Homo sapiens: one gene and its partner. The protein of the gene in region 2 interacts with the protein of the main gene of each other region in a biochemical or structural test. Each region holds a gene or a part of one and is shown on either strand. Other genes may lie near its edges. The genes, in order: NKX2-5 and CAMTA2.

Region 1 (9,625 bases), on a different chromosome or scaffold from region 2:
AGCAAAGGCCCGGGCGCCCGGCCCTGGCTCGCGGAATGGGCGGCCAGATCTCAGGCCCTGCGTGCCCGAGCTCAGTCCCAGTTCCAACCGGGGGTGCCCATGGACTCTCGGAGGGCACTCCTGGGGGGACAGCTAAGACACCAGGCTGCAGGATCACTCATTGCACGCTGCATAATCGCCGCCACAAACTCTCCCGTGCGCAAGAACAAACGCGCGTGGGACAGAAAAAGTTCCTAGGTCTCCGCAGGAGTGAATGCAAAATCCAGGGGACTCAGGGTCATGTTGGGAGCCCCTTCTCCCCCCGAGAGTCAGGGAGCTGTTGAGGTGGGATCGGTCAGGGTCGCGCCACGCGGGTCCCTTCCCTACCAGGCTCGGATACCATGCAGCGTGGACACTCCCGAGTTGCTCTGCGGAATCCCGGGGCTCTGAACCGCATTCAAGTCCCCGACGCCGAAGTTCACGAAGTTGTTGTTGGCGGCGGCAGTGGCCGGCTGCGCTGGGGAAGGCCCGGCGGGGTAAGCGGCAGTGCAGCTGTAGCCAGGGCTGCAGGCCGCGCCGCCGTAACCCGGATAGGCGGGGTAGGCGTTATAACCGTAGGGATTGAGGCCCACGCCGTAGGCAGGCGCGTAGGGCGCCGAGTCCCCTAGGCATGGCTTGCCATCGCGCACCAGCACTGGCACCGCGATCCTGCGGGCAGGCGGCGGCGGCGGCGGGGGCAGCCCCACCAGCTCCAGAGTCTGGTCCTGCCGCTGCCGCTTGCACTTGTAGCGCCGGTTCTGGAACCAGATCTTGACCTGCGTGGACGTGAGTTTCAGCACGCTGGCCAGCTGGTCGCGTTCGGGGGCCGACAGGTACCGCTGCTGCTTGAAGCGCCGCTCCAGCTCATAGACCTGCGCCTGCGAGAAGAGCACGCGCGGCTTCCTCCGCCGTCGCGCCCGGGGCCGCTCCGCGTTGTCCGCCTCTGTCTTCTCCAGCTCCACCGCCTTCTGCAGCGCGCACAGCTCTGAGGGGGAACAGAGAGGCAGAGAGACGCTTGGTAAGAGCGGCTTGACCTACGGAGCGCGGCCGCACAGTAATGGTAAGGGATCCTCGTGGAGGCCACTGTGTCCTGCCTGGAGCGCCCAGCTGGCTGCGGCTCACTCTGCCAAGTGCACTGGGAGCCACCGACACGTCTCACTCAGCATTTGTAGAAAGTCAGGCTGGCTCAAGGCGCTGGAGAACAAAACGGGAGGTCTCTGCCCTCGGGGCAGTTCACACCCTGGTGAGGGAGACAGACGGTGACTTAAAATTTCAGGCTGCAAAAAAAAAAAAAATAAATAAAAAAATAAAAAAATAAAAATAAAACCAGGTGATGCTCTGGGGTGAACTGAATTAGGGCTAGTTTGGTTTGAGAAGTTAAATGAACAGAGGCCGAGGCCTCACTGCTAGGGACGGTCTTATCTCAAAATTAAGGAATCAAGAAACAGAAGGCCAGGGAGTGTTGGTTTGGTGATCGGAGGCTCCAGCCTGGCCGCAGCAGGGTTTGCGCAGTGTCCAAGAAGCTGCGGGTGGGCAGGCGGCCTCGGAACCTGCCTTGCTGGCTTCCTCGAATTGGTAGCGATCAGTTCTAGCCGCCGTGCCCGCCCGAATTTGTTCCCAGGCCTCTGCTCCTCAACAAACCTATGAATTCTCTCCCGGCTGGCAGCGGCCCTTCGCCCAGCGCTTCGCCCAGCGCCTGCGGCCTCCCGGGAATCGCCCGGGCTCCTGCCTTGGGCTGGGGGGTCTCCCAGAAGGCCCCTTTCTGCAGCGGGGCCGGCCTCCCTCCCCGATCCTGGGATGGCCTGCGGGATGATCCCGCACTCATCTCGTCCACTCCCTTGTGCCCGCGGTAGCGCAGCATTTCCTAACTTTTCCACGAGGGAACCTCTCCGCCCTGGCCGCGCCGGCAAGTTGTGCTGAAAAAATAAAGTGAAGTCAGATTCCTGAGGGTCCGCAGTATCCCATTTTAAAATCAAGGCCCTCGATCCCAGACTCCACTTTCCTGGCGCAAAGAAAGAAAGGCACCAGAAACCCGGGTCGTGGGTGGGCTGCAGAAAGAAGGTCCAGGACCCTCCTCCGATTGTACGCAAAAGCTGTCTGGTGAGCAACATTTCAATTTCTGTTTAGCGGTTCTCATCAGATCTTTAAAAAGATTCGTAAATCCAAAGGAGATTTAAAAACAGAGATTATCTGCTTGTCTCTCTGTTCTGTCTACCATAAACCGATTTCTCAACTTCCTACCAGACCCAGGAGCAGAGCCGAAGCCGCCCGGGGCTTTGTTAGGCCGGGGGGAAACGTTTTTTGGTCTCTTGCTTCTGATCCTTTCAATCCGGCATTTCCTCTGAACCTCCGATTGGACGCGGGGCGCGGGAGCCTGGCGACAACACCAGGCATCTTACATTCTGAACCCCCCGCCGCAGCCCAGCCCTCGGCCCAAGGGCGCGTGTCTCCTCCTCCTGGCCCTGAGTTTCTTGGGGACGAAAGCGACCCAGGAGGGGAGAAGGGGGCCTGTGTTTCCTCCTCACCTTTCTTTTCGGCTCTAGGGTCCTTGGCTGGGTCGGGGTCGCTGTAGGCACGTGGATAGAAGGCGGGGGCGGCGGGAAAGGCAGACGCACACTTGGCCGGTGAAGGCGCGCGGCCCAGCTCTGCGCGCAGCTCTGGGAGGCCCGGCGCAGCCGCCTCGGGCCCAGCGTAGGCCTCTGGCTTGAAGGCGGCCAGCATGCAGGAGGAGGGCGCCAGGGTCGCCTCCAGGCGGGCAGAGAGCTCTCCGGCGGCAGCCAGGCTGCGCTGCTGCTGTTCCAGGTTTAGGATGTCTTTGACTGAGAAGGGCGTGGGCGTGAGAGCAGGGCTGGGGAACATGGTGGCAGCGCCAGTCTCACAGCGCCAGGTGGGCGGCAGAAAGCGGCGCTGCCCACGGCCCCTGGCAGCTTCCCTGCATGGTGCCGCCGCCCGCCCGCGCACCCGTCGGCCAGCTCTGGATGTGTCCGGGCAGCAGGTAGCGCTGAGCACAAGGGGCAGGAGAGGCGGGACCAGGCCAGAGGAGGGGGACTCAGCCTGCCATTGGGCCAGGGGCCTCGATGACAGGAGCGATGAGCAGTTTCGTGTCACCTAATATAGTCATACGGCAAAAAAAAAAAAAAAAAAAAAAAAAAAAAAAAAAAAAAAAAGCCCTGCCCAGCTTTTTTAAAGGGGCCACGACGCATTTGGAAGGGTCTCCTTTTGCTCCTGCAGCCTGCGTTTGCTCCCTAATGTGAGCCTGAAAAGCCTACCAGAGGCATGCAGAGTCAGGCCTCTGGGCAGGGCTGGATGGGTGTGGGTTTGAAGAAATATTCCTCAGCACCCAAACCAGCATGGGAGAGAGAAGGATGGGGTGGGAAGCGGTGGGGAGGAGAGTGATTTGAGGAAGGCTTTATTACTGAAGGTGGTGGGATGAGGGAGAGTCTGAATAGGAAGAGAAGCCTGGAGGACAGGGCTGGCTTTGGGGATAGCAGCAGGGCGAGATTCTGGACAATTCGGGGGTTTGGTTTGGCTTGGCCTACAGGGTCAGTCATGCCGCAGGCTCTGGGTGCTTCTGGGCGAGTCAACGAAAGTAAGGGCAAGGTGAGTGATGGCCAGGTGGGGTAGGAGTTGCTGCCTCCTACAGTAGTGTTATGCACAGCACAACTCCAGGGGGCATCAGTCACTGCCAGTACCCTCCCAGGGAAATGCCTCTCCCCTTAATAATGAAATAAATCAGGAATCCCAGCTGGTAAGCTCAGCTTCCCAGGAGACACCTGTCTTGTGGAGTGCCCCAGCTACCAGCCACCTTGTTTCCCCTGTTTGGAGGCCATCGATCCCACCTCCCTCCTTCCCGTGCCCTCCCTGCCTGGCAGCAAGGCCCTCAGGCTTCTGCCAACCTCGAGGTTTCAGGGTCCTAGCCCAGGTTTAGCTCTCAGGGAGGCGGGGCTCCTCTGAGCCCAGCTAGGCCAGGATTTCTCTGAGGCCTCTGGGCCGGACTTCCAGTGGGGCACCCCTGCGGCTCGGTCAGGCGCGTGGGGGAAGGGCAGGGCAAGTGGGGTGATCATGATCATTTTTAGCCCAGGGTCAGTAGAGTAGGGCACAGAAGTCAGACAAATCTGCCAGAGTTTCAGGAGCGCCAGCTACATGGCCAGATCCTGCCCGGGTGGCCTCATTTCTCTGGGTCCCCGCACTCCTTGGGAGGTCTGATGAAAGCTTGGGGTCTTCTCCATTCCCCAGAACACTGCAGAGAGGAGTTTTATTTTGCTTACAATTCAGGAGTCCGGGCAGGCAGAGCGGGCCCAGGTTAAGGACGCCTTCTAGAGCTGGGGATGACAGGATTTGTCAGTGGAAAAGCGTTGGCTTCTCACGGCCCTAGCTGGTACAGGGAACCGCGGGCGGGAAGCTGGGCGGGACGCGTGGACTTGCTGAGAATGGGGATGTGGAGGGCTTGGCTCTTTGCGGAGTGCGGGTTGGCAAGAGGCGCTTGGAGTAGAATAAAGGCGGCGCAGGGCCAAAAACTACCTAAAGACACAGCTCCCGCAGGCGCGCCCAAGGTGCGGAGGAAACGCTCCATGTATGGGGACAAAATAGTGTCTGTCCAGAACGTACATCTTGGGTGCTCAAACCCGACAGTGTGCCGTCTGAGACGCCGACGCAAGTGAAGTCAAGCATTGGCCTGATGTTGGGACTTTTCCTGTCCCTCATCAAAGCCACACTCCCAGGACCTGGGGCCTCCATGCTGGGGAGAGAGGTGAGCCCCGCAGGGCAGCCCAGGAGGCGCGCAACGCCCTGACCCCGGCTTCTAGGCGCCAGCCGTCAGTAACAGGCCTGGGCTGCCACGCCGAAATCACGCCTCGAGTTTCTGAGCCAGGGACTACTGGGGGTCTGGAATTGTTAGTCTAGTCTGTGGAGGATGCCTTTTCTTAAATGTGGGGCGTTCAAGGCCCAGGAAACCTCGTCCCCCCACCTCTTCACCTCCCAACCCAAATTCTCCTTGGACGGAGCTGCATGTCAGCGGCCTTGCGGCCCTTCCTCGCCTGGACTTTTGGCCACGTTACCGTTATGGCTGTAAATTAACCTAGCTTGGGGGCCCGCCTTGCCTTTGAAGATTGTTTTCGAGCGCGGGCGGGGGGGGGTGTCGTTGGAGAGGATGCCTATCGCCGAGGCGGTGACGTCTGGCAAACGAGCCACATCCGATTCAATTAAATGTCTCGCTGAAAAGAGCTCGGAACGAGGGTCCTGGGAGCGCTGTTAAGTGAATCTGCTGGCCAGGCGGCTCGCGATGACAGTTTGAAAGATTAGTGTGAGCGGACGCCTGAAATATTACCGTTTAATGGGGGACATCGAGGCTACATCCGGGATCCCTGTTTTTAGTAAGGTTTTTTTTTTTTTTTTTTTGAGAGCTCTGGAGAAAGAAAAAAATTAGCATTGCCCTTGCAAATCAAGGTGGCAAGGATTTATTTCCTATTTTCGGGTAAGGGGGCTTCCTAGAACTGTCAGTCCTGTGGGTCAGGTGTTACAAAAAGGGAAGGAAAAAAAACTCTCCCTATTTGAACAAGATCAGTGACTGTTACACTCTCTATGCTCTTTGTGAATCGGGTAATGATTTCTCTTGGCTTCCAAAAAGGTCTTGGTGTTGCAGGAGAGAGGAGATGGGGCAAAAACGGACAAATACGTGCAAAATAGAAATTGGGGCGACCCATGCTGGTCTCCTTAGAGGAAAGTCCGAGAGCCATTTGCAGCTTTTCTTTCCAGTCCTCACTGTTTCCGAGTGAGTTAAAAAAAAATCCCTCTAAATAGATCTAAATAGAAATTGCAATAGTTGGGGGTTGGGTGGGAGGAAACTTGATTCTCTGGCCCCCAACAGGGACACATCTTTTTTTCCCAAGGGCCGCTGACCCAACCTGGCCGCCTCTCTGCGCCGCACTTTGACCAAACTAGCAGGACAAACAAACAGCCTTCAGCCTAGAGAAAGGCAGAGAGAGACAAAAGGAGAGAGAAGAGATCGAAAATCTATCTGTGTATTTCCTTGACTTTTAAAGAGTTGGTGCTTTAAGATAATCCAAATTCCAGGGTGGCTCGAGCGCATTCTCCGTGAATAAATTATTATTAATTGAAAAGCGATCGGCGCAGCCGGAGCCGGCCCCCCTTTCGTGCAATCAGCAGGGCTGGTCGCAAAAGGTATATATGATTAATTGAAAGATAAGCTGGAACTATCACCGGGAATGTCATTAATGCGCTGGGGAGACGTCCATTGGAGACAGGCGGCGTTATCCGCGGCTTTATCTTCAACAACGCCTCGCTCTCGGCCCGCGCGGGGGAAACAGATGGGAGTTTCTGTCTGGGACGCTCGCCCCATGTTTATATTTTGGGAAGAATCGCAACTCGTGGGAGTCCCCGGCTGGCCCCCTGATAAATGAACATTAGCACTTTTTCGGACTACTGTATCAACAAAGGGGCTGCGGCGCTGCAATAATTGGCGAGAAAGCAAACAGAGGGCCGAGAGCGCGACTCTGCTCTTCGTCCGGCTGATGGATGAGCAGCTCCGGCTGCGCGCCGGACTCCCGGCCTCGGCCTCCGCCTCCGCCTCCGCCTCCGCCTCCGCGCTGGGCCCCTCCGCCGCCCGGCTTCCTTCCTGGCCGGGAGTTGGGGGCGGGGGGCGACTCTGAGGGCCGCCGACCTCGCCCTTGGCTCCGGAAGAGTCCAGGCGGCCTCCGCGGCACCGGATTTTTCCTGCCTCGGGACTCGCCTCATTCAGGTGGCTCAGCTGGCACCAAATCCTTCTCATTTCCACGCTTGTTCAGTGCCCACGGGGTGTGCCAGGCGCTCTCACGGATCTCGTCACGGATCCTCTTATTCCGACTGCAGGCCTGAGGAGAATGAGGTTCAGAGACGTGGAGTAAGTTGCTCAGGGTCACACAGATGGGAAAGGACAGTGTCAGGGTGTTAGGATTCGAACACACAGCTGACTGCACAGCTGAGACTGTTTTCTTTTATTACACGTCGCTGCGCCCAAGACCGTACCAACTGGAGGAAGAGCAAGACCCCCACCATCACCCCCCACCCCGCAGCCAGGGGAGAGGACCAGGCTGTTGGATTTGAGATGCCAGGTCTCCCCAACCTTCATAGACAAGGGAGATTTCCTGCATAAAGTTCATTTGAGAAAGAGAGGGGGAGAGAGGAATTTAACATGCGTTCATTTCACTTCCGCCTTCCCCTCCCCTCGCTCTCCCACTTTTCCTTTCCCTTCTCCCTTCCCTCTCCTATTTTGATAACAGCTTTATCGAGATATAATTCGCATACCATACAATCCACCCATTTAAAGTATACAGTTCAGTGATTTTTAGTATGTCCACAGAGTTGTGAAACCAACACCACAATTTTAGAACATTTTTATCACCCCAAAAACAAACTTGTGGTCTTTAGCCATCAACTCCAATCCCCTCTCCTACCTTCCCAGCCCTAGGCAACTGCTAATCTATTTTCTGCCCCTATAGATTTGCCTGTTCTGGACATTTCATACAAATGGAATCATACAATATGTGGCTGTTTGTGTCTCGCAGCGTTCACTTAACATAATGTTTTCAAAGTTCGTCCATGCTGTAGCACGTATCAGCATCTTGTTCCTTTTAATGGCTGAACAATATTCCATTGTATGTCTATGCCACACTTCGTCCATTCATCACTTGGTAAACATTTGGGTTATTTCCACATTTTGTCTATTATGAATACCCCTCCAGCCCACTTCTACCTTACAGTCTGAAGCTTTAGAGTCCTTGAAAGGGCCCTTCCCCCTCCTCCATAATTAACCCTATCCTTCATGGGCATGGCATCTGTGCAGTCTCACAGGGCCTGAGCTTGGTTTAATGTTCCGCTGTTGCTGTCTTAAAACTCTTCATAAGTTTTTAAGCAGAGTCTCCACATTTCTATTTTGCGCTGAGCCCACAAACTATGTAGTCAATCCTGCTTTCTGGGCTGTCTGAGCAGAGCACTGGAAATACTAACTCTCTATTGCCTAGCTGGGTTTTGGCTTCCTTCCCTCACCCCCCACCCCTCCCCAGCCCCCTGCTAGCCAGCTAGGACAGACAGAAAGTCTCCAAGCTGCTTTAAGAGCTGTCCATGGAAACTTGCTCAGCCATAGGAAGGGCCTAGAGCCCACAGAAGGAAAGAGCAGATCCACATGGCTAGTGGATACTGTGCGTATGTGTGTGTGTGTGTGTGTGTGTGTGGCTGTGAGGGGAGAGGCTAAAAGAGTGGACCGTAGCTTTCACCCAGCTGCCAAGTGACTCCACAGCTTGGTCACTGTTGGATTCTTGGCCTGATTTTCTCCATCCCTTCACCTACATTGAGTGGGTGCCCACTATGTACCAGGTGCTGGGGTTGCACAGCCCAAGATGCACAGACCCTGAAAAAGGCAGGCGTGTGTCAGAAAGAGCGCTGGCCTCTGAGCCCGCGGTGGGTGTGGTCCTGCCTTTTCAGCAGTTGGCTCATCTTGAGCATGTCTCTTTTCCTGTCTGGTCCCCAGTTTTGTGTCTGTCTCCTTGGTGGTATGAGGTGTACACAGCGTTCCTTTCCAGCGACACTATCCTGGGAGACATCCCAGGTTGTTACCTGAACTCACCTGGACAGTGGGCAGAGGTAGACAGGCACGTGGGTAGTTGTCTAACCAACAAAGTAAAACTGGTTAAGATGAGAAGTCCCCGCCAATTGCAATATTATGCTATTTGGGGTGGGGGGAGGGATGGTCTATATGACAATATGCTTTCAAAATAAAATGATGTTAACGTAAGGAAAATGTGATGGATTTTTCTTATACCAAATACATTCAATTTCAGATAGATCAAACATTTGGACGTTAAAAATGAAACACAAAAGTGCTACAGATAATTAAAATAATAATTTTGGAGTGCTTTTATATTTGAGAGGGGGATTAAGAGAACAAAAGACCTAGAAACTATAAAAGATGAATTATATAAACCTGATTGCATAAAAATAAATCTGTGCACAGCAAAAATACCATTAATAGAATCCAACAGAAAACTGTACTCAGGAAAAATGCTAGAAATACATGACAAAGTACTGATTTCCACAATTTGGAAAGAATACCTGTAAATCAATAAGAAAATGATCCAGCAAAAATATTTGAAAAATGACCAAGAGTATCAGAGCCTTGCTGGAAAAAATAAAAAGAAATAAAGAAATGCAAATTGAAACACAGAGAGGCAAATGTTTTTACTTATCAGACTGACGAAGATCAAAAAGTGTAATAGTTGCCTCGTCATGCTTCTACATTGTAAACTGGTAAACCTCTTTGGAGCAATGTGGTACTGCCAAAATTAAAAATGAATAAGCTCTTTGAACAAATATTTTCATTTCTAGGATTCCATTCTATAGGTATATACATATATGCAAAGAAAAGTATTTTCATCACCGTTTTTAATTTTTTTAAGAATCAAAACATGTTAAAAAAACCAGTGTATATATACCTGAGGACTGGTTAAAAAATTATGTTGTACCAATAGAACAGAATACCATATGCCATGAGAAAGAATTAGTTCCATTCATATGTATTCTTATGGATATGTTTTGAGATACTTTAAATAGCAAA
Region 2 (8,986 bases):
CCCCTGCCCCTGACCTTGTACTTTCGGAAGGCCGTCTGGATGACTCGGGCAGCCTCATACAGTTCCCGCTGCTCGTGATCTGATAGTGTCAGCAGGGCAAAATCACTTTCCATCTTGCCACTGGTGGATGCAGAGAGAAACTCTGCCCAGGAGGGTGCTGAAGGGACAGCCAGGCGACCTCGCTCAAAGGGCAGTTCGCTGTAGGCGGTAGGGAAAGAGGGTGTCATGAAGCATCTGAAGTCCCTCCTCTGCCACCTATGGATGGCTACGAAGGAAAACCACCAGCAACTGAGTCTGGAGAGTGACTTCAGAGTTCATCAGCCAGTTCAGTTCGCTTCTCCAAGGCCCTGGGGCCTCAGCCAGAATGGAGCTTTGGCTGTGGGAAAGCCAGCTTTCTCCCTTCCTCCCATCTTCCTTTGAAGAATCTGGAGGCTTTGTCCTGAGCTAGTCACCTGGGAGGGGTTGAGCTGGGGAAATGGTCCACATTCTCCAGGTAGCTGGCCAGCCAGGACATGGTCTCACTGAGCCCCACAGCCCCTGTCCGCTCCCGCATTGAGGCTCCAGCCTCGGGCAGCCCCACGAAGTCCTCTCGTTTAATCCGCTCCGGTGTGGCTTCGATGATCTGCTTGGCTAGTGAGATCATGTCCACCTGGAAGAAGGGAGAAGCTGAGTGAGTCCTTAGGGGCCCCAGCTGCCAGCTGTAACCTCAGTCCATTCCTATCTTGTTCCTTCTCTCCCTGCCAGGTGCTGCTAACCCTGTCTTTCTGGGCCACTGTTCCAGACTCATTCATTTATACTGATGGGGCTCCCACTTGGGGGTCCCTCTGTGCTGAGATGCTATGGAGAATATAGGATAAAAAGGAGATACTCCAAGTGGGGATTCAAAGCTGAACAAATGGAGGACTTGACACCCTTTCAGGCCAACCATCCACTGTCCTACCTGGGCCTGCCCCATGCCAGCTGACCAGCACATGCTCCCCATAGGCTTGGCTGTGCCCACCCCCAGCTCCCTTTCAACTCTCCAAGAACCATTCCAACACTTGCCAACTACTACCCGGATGAATGGCTCCAGTCTGGCCTTTGCTCCAGCCCTGAAGCCTATACTCCAGCACTTCCTGCTGGACACACTCAACACAACCTACTTGTGGAGTTCCCTAAGTTTTTTGTACTTAAAGTGCCACCCACTTACTCCATTAGTCTCTCTAAAGCAGGTATGTCCCCAGTCTCTATCAGAGAAGTACAAGGCTATACTTGAAGATTCACTTTCATTCCACAAGACTTTCTTAGCTTTATCATGTGCAAGCCTCCTTCCTGCATCAGATCACTGCCAAATACCCTCATCTTGCCAGCCTTACCTCTCCACACAACTCCCAGCTGCCCTCCGTCATCTTGGTTCTCCTAGAACCTTGTCCCTACATAGATCAACGGTTAACTCCTACAAACCAGCTCTAACTGAAGATATTCCCTAGAATTTTTGTTATAGAGACAGGGTCTCTTGTCCAGGCTGGAATGCAATGGCACAGTCAGCTCACTGCAACCTCATATTCCTGGGCTCAAGGGGTTCTCCTACCTCAGCCTCCCAAGTAGCTACAACTACAGGTGTGTGCCACCATGCCTATTTTTAAAAAATTATTTTGTGTAGAGATGGGGTCTTGTTATGTTGGCCAGACTGGTCTCAAGCCCCTGTTCTCAAGTGATCCTCCCACCTCGTTCTCTGAAAGTGATGGGATTACAGGGGTGAGCCACCGCACCCAGCCAGAATATTTTTTAATGCTTTTTATATTTTAAATCTTACTATTTTGTCTTTTTTTTTTTTTTTTTGAGACAGTCTCAGTCTGTCACCCAGGCTGGAGTGCAGTGGTGCAGTCTCGGCTCACTGCAGCCTGTGCCTCCTGGGTTCAAGTGATTCTTGTGTCTCAGCCTCTCAAACAGCTGGGATTACAGGCACATACCACAGTGCCCAGTTAATTTTTGTATTTCTTGTAGAGAGGGGGTTTCGCCATGTTGCCCAGGCTGGTCTCAAACTCCTGGCCTGAAGTGATCCACCCGCCCTGGCCACCCAAAGTGCTGGGATTACAGGCGTAAGCCACCAAGCCCGGCCAAATTTTTTTTTTCCAACATCTGTATTGTGGGACCAGCCAGAATTTTCAACCTCCGCTGCCTCATGACTTCCAAGTCACATGGTCTAAAAGGAGCTAAGCAAAAGGCTACCTTGCCTGTCCCAAAATGAAGTAAATAGGCCCTTCCTAAACTGAAGCCAGACTTTGATTCTGCTTCATGGAAGTCGGCCTCACCCTTCCTACTCCACTTCTAGCCCCCATAACTCCATCAATATAAGCAGTACCGGGATCACATCCACAGCCTGTGGGCTGTCAGCGTCCTCTGGAGCAGCCCCATCATCTGAAGCTGGTGGGAGGGCAGGAAGGGAGGAGAGGGGCCCCTTGGAGTTGGTAGCCTCATAGTCCATGAGGAGTAGGGGGGCTTCTGGGACACCAGAGGAAAGCTGGCCTGGGGCCATGTCCTCCATAGTCATCTCAGAGGCTGGCAGAGGTGCAGGGGGGGGACTGCCATCTGGGGCACTAGAATAGGCTGACGTGACGGAAAAGGTGCCATCCGACAGCTCCGAGGGCGAGGAGACGCTGCTCAGACCTGTGTGGGGAGGGAAGAGAGTGAGGGCAGCCGGAGCCACGGCCATCCCTCGCTCAAGTCTCCTGCCTTCCCCATCCTGTTCTCGGTCCCCGTCTGTTCTTGCTTCTGTTATCTCCCATCCCTGCCTCTGTGGTTTGTCTCCTCTCTTACTCGTTTCCCACACCCTTTGGCTTTGTCCTGGCCTATCCTCCTACCTACATCCCTCTCTCCAAAAGATTAGGGCCACCCTCACCAGTGTCTGGGCTGGAGGAGGGTGGCGATAGGGCAAATGGGGGCTCCACCGAAGGCTCCTGTCTCTGTAGTTCCTCAAGGCAGCGGGCAAGGCGCACATGACCCCGGGAATGAGCCACAGACAATGGCAGACGGCCCAGAGAGTCGGGAATGCTCAGTGCCTGTCGGTTCCAACGGAAAAGGAGCACAGCAGCTTCCAGGTGTCCCAGGGCACAAGCCCACATCTGAGGAAGGGGGCGGGACAGGCGGAGACGGAGGTGGAGGTGAGGCCAGGGGCTCTTCCTCCAGGTAGTCAGGTCTTCAGGCCCCAGCCCACCCCACTCCCTGCATTCCTCAGGATCTTCCTTTTCAAGGGCTGTTCCCATTGCTCCCTGCCCCATATGCGCTCAGGAATCCGTCATCCTCACCAGAGGGGTGCAAGAGAAATGATCCACGTTGAGCGGGTCAACCTCCTGCTCTAAGTCCAAGCTTCCAGTCTCCACACTCCTGGAGGGTTTGGGAGAGAGACAGCAGAGCCCAATGAGGGAAAAAGTGGGCAAAGCAGGAACATCAGAAGTAAAGGCACTAGGAGGCAAGCTGTACAGGGCCGGTGGGAAGAGGCAGTCAAGGACACTAGCTTAAGGAGGTCAAGAAGTCAAAGTGTTGTAAGTCAGGATATGAAAGTTCCCCAAAATATAAGTCCTCTCCCAACCCCCTCCCTTCCCACAATGACCCCAACTCCCTCTTGGTAGGGCCCCAGGTCCTCCAATTCCTCTTCAGTCCCCTGACACTTCTGTCCCAGAGGCTGCCCAGCCCTCACCCAGCTGCCCTTGCTCACCGCCACTGGCTCAGGGTCTCGATGAGGCGGGCATAGCCCTGGGCAGCAGCCAGGTGCAGAAGGCTCATGCCCCGGAAGGGGCTTCCATGGGCCAGACGTTCAGGACCCTTCCAGGTGGAGCGTGGGATCATGCTTTCTACCAAGACCACTACCCGTGCTTCGAACCCAGGCCCCTGGCCTTCATCCTGCGATATACACACTCTTAGGCAGAGACCCAGGTATCTACTCCCCTGGCTTGAGGTGGCCTTGGCCACCTCACATCTGTCCTCCCAGCTTCTAATTTTGCCCCCTCCCCACATGTCCCACTCTAGGATCCCATCAGTTGAAGTTCCTCTGTGGCCTGTGTCTCTTGCTCCCACAGCCACTTCCTCCAGCAGCCAGACCTCACACAATCTTGCCCATGTGCCTTCCCATCAGCTCAGATTAGTGCCATGTTCACACATGGCTTCTCCCCCTCAGAAGCCAGAGCCTTCTCTGAGCCTTAGCCCTCTTCTTTCAGAAACTTGGGACCCACAGAGATCTGAGCCCCAGTGCTCCTGACCCCTCCCCCGCCCTCTCCTTCACCTCCACCCTTCTTCAGACCAGAAATAGTCTGAAGCCCGTCATGCCAAGAGGGTGCCCAGAATAGCCACTCTTGCCACAAGGTGGGGATGGGAACAGGGTGACGTCAGGGAGAGGGAAGACAGGCTGAGGAGGCTGGGGACAGGAGAGGGAGGAGAGTCATGGGCACTAGATGTTTTCTTTAGCTGTGTCCTCCCCCTGCTCCCCACCGTAGACCACCTCCCTCCTCACAGAAGTACCTGAACTGGAGGAGCATCAGGACCCTGGCAAGGCACCTGCCCAGCTGCTGCGATCTCTGCCATCCGCTTCTCCATCTGCTCCAGTCGCTCTAGTATGGACATCCGGAACTGGTTGTCTGAGGGGGAACGGGTATGGGAGGCTGAGTGGGCAGTCTAGGTGATGCCCTGAACACCAAAAGTAGACCTGTCCCAAGATCTGGGGATGAGGACACAGAACCATATTCTTTTATCTTCCCCAAAACAACAGCTCCTTTACCCCTTCACCTAAATAAAGCCCACCAGGACTCAGTCCTTAAACTAGGGCTGTTAATACTACCCACTGATCTAGAACCCAGATCTGGAACCAAAACTGTTTCCTTCAAGGTACAGAGGTAGTAGGATTCCCAAATGGTCATCCAGCCTCCAGATGTCCCAAATCCCACCCGTACACACTCTTCCCCCCAGCCTTTTCCTAGGCAAAATGTTCTGTCAATTTTTGCAGCAGACACTACCTTTGTCCCCCATGGTGAAGGTGAAGGATTCCAGGGTCCCTCCCTTTTAATAACCACTGCCCCAAAAAGCTCAGGGACTGTGATTTGAAAAGTACCTCCCCTTCCTCCCAGCCCCCCGCAGCTGTCCACAAAGACGATGGTGGGGGACGGAAGGTGACAGAGATGGATAGCCATATAGCCATGTCCATTTCTCCTCCTCCTCCTCCCCGCCCCATATACAAATACGCACGTACACACATATCCCCCCAAGCTATATCTGTCCCCTCCTGAGATCAAACAAGGACAAGAAGGGGAGGCAGGAGGGGATCAGAGCTGTAGGAAAACAGACACAAACGGTGAAGGTTGGAGATGTTCTGAGATGCCAGGATAGAAGGGGATGAAGGTACACAGGTGATAGGAGGACAGAGAATGATGAACAGAAACCCAAGGAAAACAAAGGGAGGAGAGAGAGCAAAAAAGATAAAGTGAAGGAGAGGAGAGAAAGGACAAAGGAGGGCTGGGGGAAAAGTGCCAAACAAGCAGTAAGAAAGGACGATAAAAGACAGGCAAGTTAAGATATTGGTTCAAGAAGAAATGGAAAGAAGAGGGATGGAAGAGACTCATAGGAGAGACGGTAAAACGTAGATTAGACAGGGACAGAGAAATAAGGTGATGAACAGTCACAGGGCAGGACAGAGACAGAACAGGACTGAGAGGCCTGGCCAGATCCCAAGGTAGGCAGACTCAAGTCAGAGACAAGCAACCCAACACACTCGGGCTTTGTGTGGGGTCCAGCTCCAAGAGTGAGGCGAAACTAAGGACCAGAGCTCCGGAGAGAGAGAAGTAAGGACAGAGGGAGACTAAGATAACACAGATGGCAGCAGAACTGAGAGAAGCCAAGAGGCAACAACAAAGACACCAAGAGGAAGAGATAGAGAAAAGCTAACCTTGAGAAAGCAGAAAGCAGCAGGTGCAGACAGAAACAATGTTCAAGGCCACAAGAGAGAGAACCAGTAACAGGAACAAAAACTCCCAGATTTAAATAAATAAATACACACACACATAGATACACGTATGTATGTGCCTCTATGTTTGTGTTAGTACACCATGTTATTAGCAATGGATATCACTGAGAAGTAGTAGTATAGGAAATTTTTTTCTTTTTTTTTGAGACGGAGTCTCGCTCTGTCGCCCAGGCTGGAGTGCAGTGGCACAATCTTGGCTCATTGCAACTTCCGCCTCTCGGGTTCAAGCAATTCTCCTGTCTCAGCCTCCTGAGTAGCTGGGACTACAGGCACCCACCACCACGCCTGGCTAATTTTTGTATTTTTAGTGGAGACAGGGTTTCACCATATTTGCCAGGCTGGTCTCAAACTCCTGACCTCAGGTGATCCACCCGCCTTGGCCTCCCAAAGTGCTGGGATTAGAAGCACGAGCCACCGCGCCCAGCCAGAAATTTTTATTTTCTATTTTGTGCTTTTGTGTAATTTCCAAATTTCTGTTAATGAACACGTCTTTATATCAGAAAAGGAAAAACAATAGAAATTTAAATATATAAGTACAGCCGGGTGTGGTGGCTCACGCCTGTAATCCCAACACTTTGGTAGACCAAGGCGGGGTGGATTGCTTGAGGTCAGGAGTTTGAGACCAGCCTGGCCAACATGGCGAAACCTCATCTCTACTAAAATCACAAAAAATTAGCCAGGCTTGGTGGCAGGCACCTGTAATCCCAGCTACTTGGGAGGCTGAGGCAGGAGGATTGCTTGAACCCAGGAGGTGGAGGTTGCAGTGACCTGAGATCGCGCCACTGCAGTTCAGCCTGGGAGACAGAGCAAGACTCCGTCTCAAAAAAGAAGAGAAAAATAAATAATAAATAAGTACATAAACTTGTGCATAGCACCTATATATTGCTCTAGACCCTGTCCCTGCCCTGCCTCTTAGCCTTCCTTGTCTAGATTCCACCCTTTGGGATGGAGAAGGCAGGTCAAGAACTGGTATAAAAATGACCCCAAGATTTATGGGGAAGAGGAGGTAAGGGAAGTTTGCTGCCACATTTAGAAATCACTAATGAAATAGGAATTGAAAAAAAAAAATGGTAAAGTGGGGGCTCAGTGATGGCCACCTGAACCCTGAGTGGTCTAGGAGCATGTCATGCTTAAAGGCTGTGGGCTGGATACTTGGGTTCAGAGGGCTGGGTACTCACCGTCCAGTGACAGCCAGTCAAGTTGAGTACTAGGCAGAGACAGGAATCGGCGGGCTCGATACTCAAAGAGCACAGAAGCAGAAAGGGGCCCCTCCCGCCCTGCCACCTGCAAAGACACCAGCCCTACCTCATGGGCTGGAGAGGGTAGGATCAGCGAGAAGGGCTCTCTTTCCCTGGCTCCTTCTCTGGCTACCTGTGTCAGCCACAGACAATTATTCCATAGTTATTTCCCCTACTGCCCTGCTGTGGGCCAAGAGGCCCCTGGCTTCAGTGGCCTTGGCACTAACTGGGAAGGGAGTCCATTTGTTTGAGAACTTAATACGTACTATGGGCCAGAGATCCCTTGGATTCTAGACCCTGTAGTTGAAGATATTTGTTATTCAGCAAGAAGGTTTGGAAACTGAGGGTCAAGAGACTAGTTATGAACAATTTGATGTTGGAAAATCCTCTTGATCCCCGGATCAGAGTCTGGAAGTTATGACCCTGTTACTGAGATGGAGGAAAGGGGAGCTAGCCGCTCATGAACAGTGTCCAGTGGCCATAAGCATGGAACCAGCAGGCCCTGATCCTAAGACCAGGTGCTGAGACTTTTTCTCCCAGTCCCCAGATTCTCTGGTCTCATCCCCTTTCCTTACACACATGCTGGATGCTGCTGTAGAGACTGGGGGAGAACACACTCGTAGACAGCAAAGCTGCCAACCTGTCACTTTGGTGGTCCTTGAGGTCCCCTAGTAAGGCTGATTTTTGAGTGTAGGGTAAGGGCAAAGCTGGTGGCAAAAGGGCAGAGATGAACCTTGGCAATGAAGTCTAGACCAGTGCTGTCCAATAGAACATTTCTGCAGTGACAAGAATGTTCTATATCGTCACTATCCAATAGGGTAACACGAGCCATGTGTGGCTACTGAACACTTGAAACATGGTCAGTGAGACTGGGGAAGTGAATTTTAAGTATTCTTTAACTTTAATTAATAGGCACATGTGGCTAATGGCTACCATACTGGACAGCACAGTTCTAAAAGCCAATGTCCTTCAGTCCCAAGACTGGTTAGAGGAAACCCACATTTCTTCTTTCTCATTCCCCCTGGATTGGAGTTGGAGACTCTGGCTCTAAGCCAGAAAGCCTGGACAGACATTAGAAATCCCTTTGGTCAATGCCTAACCTTACAGGAGAGGAGGCCAAGGACCTCAGGAAGGATCAGACTCATCTGAGGTCACTGGTTAGCTAAGGAGTAGACTTCTTGGACCAGAACCTCGATCTTCTGACACCTAAGTCTGGGCTCTTCTGCCTGCTGGGAGAGCTTGGGGCTCAACCTCAGGACTGGATGAAGTCCTTGTGCTCTCAAAACAACCCATTTGTTCCCAGTGCTTTCTGGAAGCCTGGAGGTCCTGATCTGTCCTAACTGCCCACATGTCAGTCCCTCCCCCTACGGTTCCCAATCCTCATACCGGGACAGTAGCAGCGTAAGACACCAGGCTGGACAAGTGAGGCTGGCACTGCGATGTGATCAAAGACACAGGAGTAATGCTCGGCGGCTTCGGTCCAAGGACCTGTGATGAGCACCTTGACCCCACCCTGCAGACAGAAGTCAGAGACCATGTGACTGGAGTTGGGCGTTCATCCCCTCACTCATTCATTTATTCAGACCCTTACAGGGTATCTACTATATGGCAGGTCCTGTGCTAGAGTCTGGGGGTCCAGGGATAGACAGGACCCAGTGGGGTGAGGTCAGTGAGTCTATCTCTCCCCAACATTCCTGCCAAGTGGTTGCCTGGTCTCTACCTGAATCTGCCAGTAGCTGGGAATTCAGGGCCTCCC

Evidence for each region.
Region 1: the proteins of CAMTA2 (region 2) and NKX2-5 form a complex in vitro, tested with the Homo sapiens proteins (one study listed by BioGRID).

The regions. Positions count from the first base shown.
Region 1 is NC_000005.10:173,232,207-173,241,831, forward strand, and holds the start of NKX2-5 (homeobox protein Nkx-2.5), read right to left. Parts: upstream 3,001-9,625; 5' UTR 2,878-3,000; coding exon 2,544-2,877; intron 1,935-2,543; coding exon of another isoform or gene 1,840-1,934; exon of another isoform or gene 1,303-1,839; intron 1,296-1,302; coding exon of another isoform or gene 1,291-1,295; exon of another isoform or gene 1,259-1,290; coding exon of another isoform or gene 1,137-1,258; exon of another isoform or gene 1,004-1,136; coding exon 363-1,003; 3' UTR 1-362. UniProt on the Homo sapiens protein: Transcription factor required for the development of the heart and the spleen. During heart development, acts as a transcriptional activator of NPPA/ANF in cooperation with GATA4.
Region 2 is NC_000017.11:4,969,888-4,978,873, forward strand, and holds part of CAMTA2 (calmodulin-binding transcription activator 2), read right to left. Parts: intron 8,744-8,986; coding exon 8,617-8,743; intron 7,306-8,616; coding exon 7,171-7,305; intron 4,795-7,170; exon of another isoform or gene 4,614-4,794; coding exon 4,498-4,613; exon of another isoform or gene 4,473-4,497; intron 3,916-4,472; exon of another isoform or gene 3,883-3,915; coding exon 3,698-3,882; intron 3,367-3,697; coding exon 3,288-3,366; intron 3,105-3,287; coding exon 2,882-3,104; intron 2,650-2,881; coding exon 2,345-2,649; intron 650-2,344; coding exon 453-649; intron 264-452; exon of another isoform or gene 199-263; coding exon 15-198; intron 1-14. UniProt on the Homo sapiens protein: Transcription activator. May act as tumor suppressor.